Linked DNA regions of Homo sapiens. The protein of the gene in region 2 interacts with the protein of the main gene of each other region in a pairwise test. Each region holds a gene or a part of one and is shown on either strand. Other genes may lie near its edges.

What was found.
Region 1: the proteins of NMNAT1 (region 2) and RNF4 interact in binary tests that used the Homo sapiens proteins (3 or more experiments, as listed by UniProt).
Region 3: the proteins of NMNAT1 (region 2) and KPNA1 interact in binary tests that used the Homo sapiens proteins (3 or more experiments, as listed by UniProt).
Region 4: the proteins of NMNAT1 (region 2) and CCNC interact in binary tests that used the Homo sapiens proteins (3 or more experiments, as listed by UniProt).

Annotation. Positions count from the first base shown.
Region 1 is NC_000004.12:2,503,606-2,507,105, reverse strand, and holds part of RNF4 (E3 ubiquitin-protein ligase RNF4), read right to left. Parts: intron 1-3,500. UniProt on the Homo sapiens protein: E3 ubiquitin-protein ligase which binds polysumoylated chains covalently attached to proteins and mediates 'Lys-6'-, 'Lys-11'-, 'Lys-48'- and 'Lys-63'-linked polyubiquitination of those substrates and their subsequent targeting to the proteasome for degradation.
Region 2 is NC_000001.11:9,974,475-9,977,974, reverse strand, and holds part of NMNAT1 (nicotinamide/nicotinic acid mononucleotide adenylyltransferase 1), read right to left. Parts: intron 2,384-3,500; coding exon 2,200-2,383; intron 1-2,199.
Region 3 is NC_000003.12:122,462,940-122,466,439, forward strand, and holds part of KPNA1 (importin subunit alpha-5), read right to left. Parts: intron 1,103-3,500; coding exon 1,003-1,102; intron 1-1,002. UniProt on the Homo sapiens protein: Functions in nuclear protein import as an adapter protein for nuclear receptor KPNB1. Binds specifically and directly to substrates containing either a simple or bipartite NLS motif.
Region 4 is NC_000006.12:99,555,161-99,558,660, forward strand, and holds part of CCNC (cyclin-C), read right to left. Parts: intron 3,389-3,500; coding exon 3,337-3,388; intron 1-3,336. UniProt on the Homo sapiens protein: Component of the Mediator complex, a coactivator involved in regulated gene transcription of nearly all RNA polymerase II-dependent genes.

The DNA of each region.
Region 1 (3,500 bases), on a different chromosome or scaffold from region 2:
GTGACTTATTCATACATTATAGAAACAGACCAAAAAAAGATTCCAGAAAAATCAACCTTACTAAGAGACAATCTTTGGAAATTTAAGAAAAACAGCCTAAGTAACATTTTCAATAACCTTCCCCTTAAAGAATCTCGATTCCTTAAAGAGAGTTGCCAGTCTCTTTTCTACCACTGCATTGCTTCTAGCCAGAGCAGAGACTGGCATACTGAAAATGCTCATGAAAAGTGACCCAAGGTCAGGCTCAGTGGCTCACAACTACAATCCCAGCACTTTGGGAAACCAAGGTGGGAGGATCACTTGAGCCCAGGAGTTTGAGACCACCCTGGGCAATACGGTAAGACCTTGTCTCTCCAAAAAAATATAAAAAATCAGCCAGGGATGGTGACATACCCCTATAGTCCCAGCTACTTAGGAGGCTGAGGCAGGAAGCTCAATTGAGCCCAGAAGGTACAGGCTGCAGTGAGCCGTGATGGCACCACTGCACTCCAGCCTGGGTAACAAAGTGAGACCCTGTTTCAAGGGAAAAAAAAAGAAGAAGAAGAAGAAAAAAAACAAATTTGGAGAAAGCACACAACTTGGAAAAAAAAAAAAGATTATTTGCTGTTAAAAAGCAACCAAGGAGGCCGGACATGGTGGCTCACGTCTGTAATCCTAGCACTTTGGGAGGCTGAGTCAGGTATATCACTTGAGGCCAGGAGTTCAAGACCAGCCTGGTCAACATGGCAAAACCGTCTCTCCTAAAAATACAAAAATTAGCTGGCCGTGGTGGTGTGTACCTGTAATCCCAGCTACTCAGGAGGCTGAGACATGGGAATCGCTGGCACCCTGGAGATGGAGGTTGCAGTGAGCCAAGACTGTGCCACTGCACTCCAGCGTGGGCGACAGAGCGAGACTCTGTCTCAGGGGGGAAAAAGAAAACAACAAATGGTTTGCTTTGTTCTAGTTCAATTTTTTCAACGATTTAAAAAGTTTATAGGACTCAAGGAACCAAAACTGTATCTGATGGCCTCAAGGGTTATGTTTGAAGGCTTGCTGACTTGCAGAAAACTCAAGCTGACTGTTCAAGATGTTCAGGGCAAAAACTGCCTAGCTTCCATGCGTGGGTCTTACCCATGACAAAATGTGTTGTGTGATTTAAAAATGGCAGACCACCCGGGTGGATCACTTGAGGTCAGGAGTTCGAGACCAGCCTGGACAACATGGCAAAATCCTGTCTCTACAAAAAATACAAAAATTAGCTGGGCGTGGTGGTGCATGCCTATAGTCCCAGCTACCCAGGAGGCAGAGGCTGCAGTGAGCTGAGATCACGCTACTGCATTCTAGCCTGAGTGACAGTGAGAAACCGTCTCAAAAAAAAAAAAAAAAAAAAAAAAAAAAAAGGCAGACCATGATTGAAGCTCATGTTGATGTCTAGACTACCAATGGTTAAAGAAAACCTCAGCACCAACAGGTCTAAGATGATGGAAATCATGACCCAAGGCCGGGCGCGGTGGCTCACACCTATAATCCCAGCACTTTGGGAGGCCGAGGCGGGCGGATCACGAGGTCAGGAGATCGAGACCATCCTGGCTAACATGGTGAAACCCCGTCTCTACTAAAAATACAAAAAATTAGCCGGGTGTGGTGGCGGGCACCTGTAGTCCCAGCTACTCTGGAGGCTGAGGCAGGAGAATGGTGTGAACCCAGGAGGCGGAGCTGGCAGTGAGCCAAGATCGCACCACTGTACTCCAGCTTGGGCAACAGAGCGAGACTCCATCTCAAAAAAAAAAAAAAAGAGAGATGCAGACAAATAACTTGAAAGAAGTGGTGGAGAAAATTATTCCAGACAGCACTGGAGAAGACACAGAAATGCCTGCAAATCTATTTATCCGCTCCACGATGTCTTCTCTGTGAGGAAAGTTAAAATGCTAAAAACACTCAGGTTTGCATTGGGAAAACGTAGGGAGCTTTGTGGTGAAGACAGCAGTTCTGGAAAAGCTACTGGGATGAGCTAGGTACTAAAGTGAAAAGTCCTATTTATGATGAAAAAAGTTTATATACGAAAGTTGCATAAAAAAAAGCTATGTAACAGCCAGGTGCAGCGGCTCATGCTTATAATCCCAGCACTTTGGGAGGCCAAGGCGAGTGGATCACCTGAGGTCAGGAGTTCAAGAACAGCCTGGGCAACATGGTGAAACCCCATCTCTACTAAAAATATAAAAAATTAGCCTGGCATGGTGGTGCGTGCCTGTAGTCCCAGCTACTCAATAGGCTGAGGCAGGAGAATTGCTTGAACCCGGGAGGCGGAGGTGAACTGAGTGAACTGAGATCGTGCCACTGCACTCCAGCCTGGGTGACAGAGTGAGACTCTGTCTCAAAAAAAAAAAAAAAAAAAAATACAAAAAATGAGCCGGGCATGGTGGCGGCTGCCTGTAGTCCCAGCTACTCTGGAGGCTGAGGCAGGAGAATGGCGTGAACCCAGGAGGCAGAGCTTACAGTGAGCCAAGATCACGCCACTGCACTCCAGCCTGGGTAACAGTGCAAGACTCTGTCTCAAAATAAATAAATAAATAAATAAATAAATAAATAAATAAATAAAAGCTATAAAACAAAGAAGTTTTAAACAGGCACTTCACAAAAGAGAAAAATAAACATGAAAAGGTGTTTGATCCCATTTGTAATAAAAAAGCACAAATTAAAACCACAATGAGACACCACTGGACAAGCATCAGAATGGCTAAAATTAAAAGTGGCCATGAGGATGTGGAGAACCTCAAACACTGGCATGAATGTGAACTGCTCCCTCTTTAGAAAAGTCTGGCATTTATCCAGTAAAAATCAAAGACACTCACACCTCGGGACACAGCAGTGATGCCTTTTCTAGGCTATGCAATGCCAAAAATGAAAGTTCATTTTGAGGGAAACTAATCAAATGAGATGAACAAAGTCTCTCACTGCATCTTACCGCATTTTTCATTTCCCTTCATTTTTCAGGGGCTTTGAATTCCTTCGAAAGTTGGAAGAATGTGCACACCTGTATGCAAAGTTTCCAGTCTTTTTTTCTTTTTTGAAGAAGACAGGGTCTCACTATGTTGCCCAGGCTTGCCTTGAACTCCTGAGTTCAAGTGATCCTCCTTGCTCAGCCTTCCCAGTAGCTGGGACCACAGGCACAAAGTTTAGAGGGTTCCCTGATGTTCTGACGGCTACCTCTGGATCCTGGTATCCAGGGATTCCTATATTACAGGTACAGAGCTACTGGAGCTAAAGCAGTGCACTCAAACTATTCGACAGGTCCTGGCGGAACTGGTAAGGAAGGTTACCCCGCTTCCAGAATGAATACATTTATCCATTTTATACTCTCCTGCAGGTGCAGCCTAGGGTCACCCTGAACACACGATCCATCTACAGATGCCCCTTATCCTCAGTGACTAGCATTAGAGGCCTCCCAAACAGATCTGCTCAGAGGCAGAATTCCAAACTCAAGTATATGTCTCAGTGTAAATTCATAAACTGGCACT
Region 2 (3,500 bases):
GAGACAGTTCAATAGCAGCAGAAGCGGAATTGGTTTGTTGAACTCTGACGGCAACATCGGAGGAGTGACCCTGACTTCCACTTCTCCAGCCCTTTTACTTTTTTTTGTTGTTGTTTTTTGAGACAGTCTCATTCTGCTGCCCAGGCTGGAGTGCAGTGGCACAATTTCAGTTCACCGTAACCTCTGCCTCCCAGGCTCAGGCAATTCTCCTGCCTCAGCCTCCCTAGTAGCTGGGATTACAGGTATGGGCCCAGCTAATTTTGTATTTTTAGTAGAGACAGGGTTTCACCATGTTGGCCAGGCTTGTCTTGAACTACTGGACTCAGGTGATCTGCCGGCCTCAGCCTCCCAAAGTGCTGGGATTATAGTCATGAGCTACCACGCCCGGCCTCAGCTCTTTTAAGTACTTTTTGCCTAAGTACTTAAATCTCTTTCCACTTAAAATATCCAGAGTGGGTTTCTATTTCCTAGTCTGAACCCTAAATGATACAGTCAGTCACTGGAAAGTTCAGAACTCTAAGAACAGATACTAAACAGAAAGGCTTTTCAGAAAGCCCTTTCATTTTAAACTCAAGATAACAACAGGCCAGGCATGGTAGCTCACATTTGTAATCCCAGCACTTTGGGAGGCCTAGGTGGGAGGATTGCTTGAGGCCAGGAGTTTGAGATCAGTCAGCATAGGCAACATAGCGAGGCCCCATCTCCAACAAAAAAAAGAAAATAAAGTTTAAAAAAATCAAAATAACATTAAGAGATAATTAGGTGTCAGCCAGGTGCGGTGGCTCACCTCTGTAATCCCCGCACTTTGGGAGGCCCGAGATGGGCAGATCACCTGAGGTCAGGAGTTCAAGACCAGCCTGGCCAACAGGGTGAAACCCCAGCTCTACTAAAAATACAAAAATTAGCCGGGCGTGGTGGCAGGCGCCTGTAATCCCAGCTACTTGGGAGGCTGAGGCAGGGGAACGGCTTGAACCCGGGAGGCAGAGGTTGCAGTGAGCCAAGATCATGCCATTGCACTCCAGCTTGGGCAACAAGAGTGAACCTCTATCTCAAAAAAAAAAAGAAAAGAAAAGAAATAATTAGGTGTTGGGAGGCTGAGACAGGTGGATCACCTGAGGTCAGAAGTTCAAGACCAGCCTGGCCAACAAGGTAGAACCCCATCTCTACTAAAAATACAAAAACATTAGCGGGGCGTGGTGGCAGTCACCTGTAGTCCCAGCTACTTGGGAGGCTGAGGCAGGAGAATTGCTTGAACCCAGGAGGCAGAGGTCGCAGTGAGCCGAGAATGCACCACTGCACTCCAGCCTGGGTGACAGAGCGAGACTCCGTCTCAAAAAGAAAAAAAAAAAAGAGAAATAATTAGATGTCACTTACTCTGGTTTTTGAACCCTTAACTAGAACTGCTTCAAAGGTATGGGCACAGAGATCTGTGACTCCCTGCCCAGATGCTGTCATGGAAGCAGCACACGAATCAGGCCTGTCCATGATCAAGCAGCACTGGATGCTTCTCTTCCTTAAATTATCTGCCTGTCTCTTTTATACTTAGGAAGACTGATGATAATAACATCTTCTTGCAATTTTCCCTTTCTCATTTGGGGCACAGAAAGCCCAGGCAGGCTTCCTCTATTTTCTAACAGTGGTATCACATAGTAGCAAGCAAGCAAACATCTTTTTTTTTTTTTTTTTTTGAGATGGAGTCTCGCTCTGTCACCCAGGCTGGAGTGCAGTGGCACAATCTTGGCTCACTGTAACCTCCATCCCCGGGGTTCAAGTGTATCTCCTGCCTCAGCCTCCCAAGTAGCTGGGATTACAGGCATGCGCCACCATGCCCGGCTAATTTTTGTATTTTTAGTAGAGACGGGTTTTCACCATGTTGGCCAGGCTGGTCTCGAACTCCTGACCTCAGCTGATCCACCCGCCTCAGCCTCCCAAAGTGCTGGCATTACAGGCGTGAGCCACCGCGCCTGGCCGCAAACAACTTAAAACATAATGAAAGACACAGAGGGGCTAAGGAAGACCCATCCTTTGGTGCTGTGCTCTACAGTCTTGTAGTAACCTTCCACAGGAATGGCTTACAACACACGTGACAGTTTTGCAAATCTGTATGTTCACAGATGTAAGCAACATTGAAACATGGTAAAAACATAAGCCGCTTAGCCATTTACACAGAACTGACAAAGTTGATTACACCATAAATACCTTAGCACCTTCAGAGTCTCTTTCCACTCCTTCTGAAGACTTTCCCATGTATCAACTTCCACCCATTTAGAATTCTTGGTAGCAAGTTCTGCCATGATGACCCGGTGATAGGCAGGAATGAGTCCTTTCTTCTTGTAGGCATCACCAACAGGAGAGATGATGCCTTTGACAACTGTGTACCTTCCTAGATAAAAAGTTAGGTTTCACACTAGGTATAACAAATTAGACTTTATGCACAGGAAATATTACGATCAATATTATTTGTTTTGTTTTGTTTTTTGAGACAGAGTCTTGCTCTGTTCCCCAGGCCGCACTGGAGTGATCTCGGCTCACTGCAACCTCCGCCTCCTGGGTTGAAGCAATTCTCCTGAGTCAGACTCCTGAGTAGCTGGGATTACGGGCGCATGCCACCATGCTGGTTAATTTTTGTATTTTTAGTAGAGATGGGGTTTTTACCATGTTAGCCAAGCTGGTCTCCAACTCCTGACCTCAAGTGATCTGCCTGCCTCAGCCTCCCAAAGTGCTGGGACTACAGGCATGAGTCACCACACCTGGCCAATATTGTTTTATAATCACAGATTCTCTTTCTTTAGGGATTCCAGCTTATTAGCTGATCAATTAACTGACTGAAATTATGGTAAAATATACCCAAGCGTACAGTTCTATGATATTAACTGCAAACATGCTGTTGTGCAACCATCGCTCCTATCTATCTCCAGAATTTTCTCATCTTCCCCAACTGACACTCTGTACTTCACCTCATTCCCCTATACAGTTAAATTTCTATTGATATTGCCAAATTACTTTGTAAAAAGCCTTAATTTGTATTGTCCACCTAGATGTATGCAAAAGCCCATTTCTCAATGTCATAGGCAAATAGTGAGCTTTAGCATCCATCCATCCATCTACCTATCAGCATATTATATGATCATTTATGTAACAAAAAAATCGAGGCCAGGTGTGGTGGCTCACACCTGTTATCCCAGTGTTTTGGGAGACCAAGGCAGGAGAATCACTTGAGCCCAGGAGCTCAACACCAACATGGGCAAAACAGTGGGACCCAGTTTCTACAAAAAATTAAAAAATTAGGCCAGGCGCGGTGGCTCACTCCTGTAATCCCAGCACTTTGGGAGTTCGAGGCGGGTGGATCACGAGGTCAGGAGATCAAGACCATCCTGGCTAACACGGTGAAACCCTGTCTCTACTAAAAATACAAAAAATTAGCCAGGCATGGTGGCGGGCACCTGTAATCCCAGCTACTCCGGAGGCTGAGGCAGGAGAATGGTGTGAGCCTGGGAGGC
Region 3 (3,500 bases), on a different chromosome or scaffold from region 2:
CAGCCGGGTGCGGTGGCTCATGCCTGTAATCCCAGTATTTTGGGAGGCAGAGGCAGACGGATCATGATAGGATATCGAGATCATCCTGGCCAACATGGTGAAATCCTATCTCTACTAAAAATACAAAAAAGGCCGGGCGCAGTGGCTCACGCCTGTAATCCCAGCACTTTGGGAGGCCGAGGCAGGAGGATCACAAGGTCAGGAGATCGAGATCCTGGCTAACACAGTGAAACACCGTCTCTACTAAAAATACAAAAAATTAGCTGGGCACGGTGGCGAGCGCCTGTAGTCCCAACTACTTGGGAGGCTGAGGCAGGAGAATGGCGTGAACCCGGGAGGCGGCGCTTGCAGTGAGCCGAGATAGCGCCACTGTACTCCAGCCTGGGCGACAGAGTGAGACTCCATCTCAAAAAAAAAAAAAAAATACAAAAATTAGCTGGGGGTGGTGGCGTGTAACTGTAATCCCAGCTACTCGGGAGACTGAGGCAGGAAAATCGCTTGAACCAGGGAGTCGGAGGTTGCAGTGAGCCAAGATCGCGCCCAGCCTGCACTCCAGACTGGCAACAGAGCCGTCTTTAAAAAAAAAAAAAAAGGTAATCACCCTGCCCACCAGTAAATGCATTCCTAACTTTCAGTGGTAAATTGCTAACATTAAAATCAACAATCATAACTCTTTCAAGGAGTATTTTTAAAGTCACTCTATAAAAAAAAGTCAGTCTCTCAATTTGAATTAACATGATACTGACTACTATTCACTATAAAGTCTTTTATAAAATAACCCAAAAATGAAAATAATTCTGTTTTCTGATCCTGGTGAGATCCCACAAATAAATAGGAAACTTAAAATTTAGGCATGGTTCACAATTACATATATGTCTGTATTTTTATTCTTTTATTGATAAAAATACTCCAACACAAATTACCTGTGGTATGAAAAACAGACTATGGGAAAGTAATTTTGTAGAGAGATGAAAAAATATACTGAACATATTCATAGCTCACCTTTTGAAAGCAGCTTCCTGAATTTCTGTGTTGCTGAAAGCTGTTGCTCTGGGCTTTTGGAAAATATCATTTCAATCATGTCAGAAGTGATGACACCACCCTGCGATCACAAACAAAAAGAACATATAATAAATTATCACCCTTAATTCAAAGGAAAGAAAGATAACAGATATCATGGCCAAGTTATTAAGTTAATCATACTTCCCCAGAAGTTACATAAAGGTAGGACAATCTTTACATATAGAAACGTGTAAGATTATTAATAATATAATGAAGCCAAATTCTTTGTCTATCATTAAAAAGCTCACAGTAGAAAGTGATCTTACTAGTAAATAAGACAAGGAGCTTATTGCTCTTCCCCTCCTTGCTCATCACATAGCTGGCTATTCTTTCTTATCAAAATTAAATGTTAAGTTTTAAAAGATGGCTTTTCAAGACCTCCAAGCCTAAAGTAGCCACTTTATCTCTATCACAGCACCATATTTCAATCGTATGCCCCAGCCCTTATTACACTCCCAGATATTTTTCTGTGTTCCTCCAGTATACTGTAACTTCCTTGTAAGCCCAAGACCCTGTCTGTCTTACTCTATCACTAAGGGCTGGTGTACTGTAAATGCTCTGCAATACTTATTGAGTGAGTAAATAGAGTGGTCCTGTATAAATCCAGCCACTGCCAAATTCAACAGCTGACTCTTAAACTTATTTAAAATTTCTTTCTTGTTTTATTAAAACTTTCCAGTTTCCCACTACCTTCTTGCTTTATTAGAATGTTTCCATTTCCCACCATAACTCATCCCCAGTATTAGCAGTTAATTTTCTTCTCAGGGTCATTTGTCAGAAAGAAACAAAGTTCTTATTTCATGAAGGGTAGCAGTCAACAAGATGAATTGTGAAGAAAGCTGCACTAAGCTGTAAATGCTAGATGACTGGTAAGCAATACCTAAGAATCCTCATAGGGGAATATATGACGCATTCTACTCAAGAATCAGAAAAGTAACTATTTTCAAAATTGCAAGACTGATTCCTAAATCAAGGTTTCTATATGATTTGTTATGAATATGTTTGCATAAACACATTCATATATATATATACACACATTAAGCAAATATCTTTTTCTTCCCTCTCTCATCCTCTTATAGCAAGCTGTACTGACTTTACATTACACTATTTAAGTATTGTTAACTTTACATTATAATATTTAAGTCACAGGCTATCAAGGACAGGAGTGAACATCACCCAAAGATTTTGCATCCTCTTCCGCAGAAGGAGTTAGTAAAGATGTGCCTCAACTTACAATGAATGGGGTTATGCCCCACTAATCCCATCATAAGTTGAAAATATTAAGTAAAAAGTACACTTAATACACCTAACCTACCAAACTTCATTGCCTAGCCTAGCCTACCTTAAACATGCTCAGAACACATACATTAGCCTACAGCTGAACAAATGATCTAACACAAAGCCTATTTTATAATAAAGTGGTTGACTATCTCGTGTAATTTACTTAATACTGTACTGAAAATGAGAAACAGAGTGACTGTATGGGTATTCAAAATACAGTTCCTACTGATTGCATATTGCTTTCACACCACTGTAAAGTTGAAAAATCCTGACTTGAACCCTCCTAAGTCAAGAACCATCCATACATTTTTAGTTGCACAAAGGAAAGTTGTAATCTGGCTGGGTGCGGTGGCTCACGCCTGTAATCCCAACACTTTGGGAAGCCAAGGCGGGTGGATCACGAGGTCAGGAGTTCAAGACCAACCTGGCCAATATGGTGAAACCCTGTCTCTACTAAAACTACAAAAAAATTAGCTGGGGGTAGTGGCGCACGCCTGTAGTCCAAGTTGGCCTCATCCAATCAGTTGAAACCCTTAAAAGCAAAGACTAGGTTTTCTGAAGAAAAGGGATTCAACAACATCAACTCTTAACCTGAATTTATAGTGGGCCAGTGTGCCCTACAGATTTCACACTTGCCAGCTCCCAAAGACACGAGCCACTTTCTTAAACTAAATTTCTTTCTCTCATTGGTTCTGTTTCTCTGGAGAACCCTAATACAATCCATAAAACACTTTATATTCACTTAACACTCTCTTCTTAAAAAAATTGGAAAGACTGGCTTTCTGAAGGGCCTAGAAACTTTCATCACAAAATGATGGCATTGGCTATGTCTGTATGAATTCCAAAGGAAATAATACTACCCTCCCAACTCTCAAAGAAAGCTGGTTCATGTAAACTGGAGATCTATGAAATGAAATAAAAATAAAAACTACAAAATACTATGAATAGTATGCCACCATTTACCAAAAAAAAAGGTGGGGGAGAGGAGAACATTTTAATATACAAAAGTTCTCAGAAAGAATAAATAGGAATTTAGTAATACTAGTTGCCAATGGAGAAAAATACTAGGTGGCTAAGCGGAAGAAAGATTTTTCTTCATTTTTTTTAATTGTACTTTTTTTGTTACTACAAACAACAGTACCTTTTAGGAGATAATT
Region 4 (3,500 bases), on a different chromosome or scaffold from region 2:
ATGTGTAGTTCCTTTTGCCTTTACTCTTACACTCTTAATCATTTCCAAAGCTACTTATGTCAACACCTTTCCCCCAATTCCCTTCACTGAAGTTGTTTCATATATTTTTAATATAGTTAGACTATTCCTTTCTCAGCACCTACTTGCTTCTTAATTCCTTGCAATCTGGCTTCTACCTCCACCCCCACATTGTTAATGACACTATGTTCTCTCTCAAAGATGTTTTTTTCTTTGGTTCACATCTTTTTCTATGCAGCATAAGACATTGTGGAACTCTTTTTTTTTTTAATTTTTAGGGACAGAGTCTTACTCCATTGCCCAGGCTGGAGTGCAGTGGCATAATCACAGTTTACTGCAGCCTTGAACTCCTGGGCTTAGGCAACCCTCCCACTTCAGCCTAGTTGAGTAGCTAGGACTACAGGTGTGTGCCACCATGCCCAGTTAGTTTTTCTTTAATTTTTTGCAGAGCTGGAATCTTGCTATGTTGTCCAGGCTGGTCTTGAACTCCTGTTCTAAAGCAATCCTCCTGCTCCAGCCTCCCAAAGTGTTCGGATTATAAGCAGGAACCACCATACCTGGCCTGTGCAACTCTTAAATGTTATCAAATTCCAAATTTCTACTGCTGGCCTCACATTTTTAAGAGGATGTTCTACTAACATATTTATACTTAGAATGTCAAAGATTAAATTTAATTCTTTTCAGAACTCACTTATTCTCTTTTTCAGTACCAGCTTCAGCTCCCCAACCCCCAGGCAAAAAAACCTCAAAACACATTTCTGACTCTTCTTAAATCCCTTCTTTTTATAAGAACTGCTGACTCTATCGCTCAAATCTGGCTTGTTTGTTCTTCTTGCTGGCTGCCAATATTCGTTTAAGCCTTCATTAGTGTTCACTGGGATGACTTCAGCAACTTAAAAATTATTTTTTCCACTTTAAACTTGTTAGGTTTTATTTCTCATAGCACCCTGTGGTAAGTGACAGCACTCAATACAGTTTGCAGTTTTACTGTATTTCAGAAGGTTTTTGTTTTTAAATTGTGTTAAGATATACAAAATTTTTGCAAAACTGAAACTCTGTATCCATTAATCACTCCCTATACCACCCTTCCTCCAGCCCTACCATTCTACTTTCTATCTTTATTAATTTGACTAAGTATTCCATGTAAGTGTAATCACACAATATTTGTCTTTGTTACTGGCTTATTTCACTTACCATAATGTCCTCAAGGTTCATCCATGTTGTGGGATGTAAATAACTTCAAAATTTGTCTAATTCTACCTGCCCTCTCCTCCAATTCATCTTACATAATTCTGTCAGATTTACCTTCCTAATGCACAATGCTAGCATTACCCTCATGTGTGAAAATAAATAAAACTGGCCAGGCACAGTGGCTCACGCCTGTAATCTCAGCACTTTGGGAGGCTGAGGTGGGTCAGATTTACCTTCCTAATGCACAATGCTGGCATTACCCTCATGTGTAAAAATAAATAAAACTGGCCAGGTGCAGTGGCTCACGCCTGTAATCTCAGCACTTTGGGAGGCCTGAGGTGAGGAGTTTAAAACCAGCCTGGCCAAAATGTTGAAACCCCATCTCTACTAAAAATACAAAAATTAGCCCGGCGTGGTGGCACACACCTGTAATCCCAGCTACCAGGGAGGATGAGGCAGGAGAATCGCTTGAACCTGGGAGGCAGAGGTTGCAGTGAGCCAAGATCGTGCCACTGCACTCCAGCCTGGGCGGCTGAGCGAGACTCCATCTCAAATAACTAACTTTCATTACTGTCAATAGAACAAAGTGCAGATTCCTTCATTTAGCATCGAAGGCCCTCTATTAGCTGAAATTAGGTAAGGAGTTTTCCCCACTATTTCCTTACTCACCATTCAGTTAATCTAACTCATGAGCTTTCCCTATTTGACTAAACTATTCAGTGTTCTTAGACTGTCTATCTCTTGCATTTCCCCAGTTCAACTTCCTTCACCAAGTTCTACTTAATCCTTTCTGGATTCATGAAACAATCTTTTCCCACCCAAAACATTCACAGCATTCTCTGTAACTCTCTTATACTATTTATTTCCTTCTGTATTAATATTTTTATGTTTCTGTCTTCTTTTTTTGTCCTTAAATTCCTTGTATTTTACCTTGGTACCAATGCCACTGCATTGGCACAGTGTTTTCCAGTGATAATGATGTTGTTGTCATTGAAGATGATGATGATGATGATAGCCCCTAAAGTTTACCAAGTATTGTGGACCAATATATGTCCCCCTCCAAAATTCGTATGTTGAAGCCCTAACTCCTAGTACCTCAGAATGTGACTGTATTTGGAGAGAGGGTCTTTAAAGGGATAAGATTAAATGAGGACAGGCCAGACATGGTGGCTCACACCTATAATCCCAGCACGTTGGGAGGCCGAGGCTAGCGGATCACGAGATCAGGAGTTTGAGACTAGTCTGGCCAACATGGTGAAACCCCGTCTCTACTAAAAAATACAAAAATGAGCTGGGCATGGTGGCACATGCCTGTAGTCCCAGGTACTCAGGAGGCTGAGGCAGGAGAATCACTTGAACCCAGGAGGCGGAAGTTGAAGTGAGCACTCCAGCCTGGGCGACAGAGCGAGACTCTGTCTCAAAAAAAAAAAAAAAAAAAAGAAAGAAAAAAAAAAGATTAAATGAGGACATAAGAGTGGGGCCTAATTCTGTAAGACTATTGTCCTCACATGAAGAAGACAGCAAACCAGGAGTGTGTGTGCTCACAGAAAGGTCCATGTAAGAATAGCCAGACACCTTGATCTTGGATTTCCATGCTCTAAAACTGTGAGAAAATACGCTTCTGTTGTTTAAGCCACCTGTTCTGTGGCATTTTGTTATGGCAGCCTCAGCAAAGTAACATACTAAGCAAGGCACTGTTCTAAAAGCTTATATTAACTCATTTGGTCCTCATAACAACCCAACAACACAGGAACGGGTTTGCACATAGATATTAATATCTACCCATAAGAATGACATAATAGTCATTAGAAAACAATAAAATACAATAAAATTCGGAAACAGAATTTTTTCTTTACTCTTACAAGATTAAAAGCCACTGAGTTGATGTTTTTGGATTGATAATTACTATCCATTTTAACATTAAAAGTAATATCTTTATATCTTTTTAAAAAAAAACCTTTTAGCTTGATTTTTTTGCCAGATACACTAGATATAAAGTTATCCTCAGGAAATTTAATAAAGCCAACCAATCTCATATGTCTCATAAACTAAAAAAAAAAAAATCTATGTACTCTGGAGCTTTCTTTAGAATTACATCCTTAAAGCAGATATACTTTTTGCACTTACATACAGAAGTAGCAGCAGCAATCAATCTTGTATTTGAAACTACTCCAAATTCCTAAAGAAAGAAAAGCAGGTACATGTTAACCCAATGAATCTAAGGGTATCTGAACTCTATTCAAAACAGGATTTCCTTGCTCCTGTTTACAATCTGTTCACCTTCTAACTAC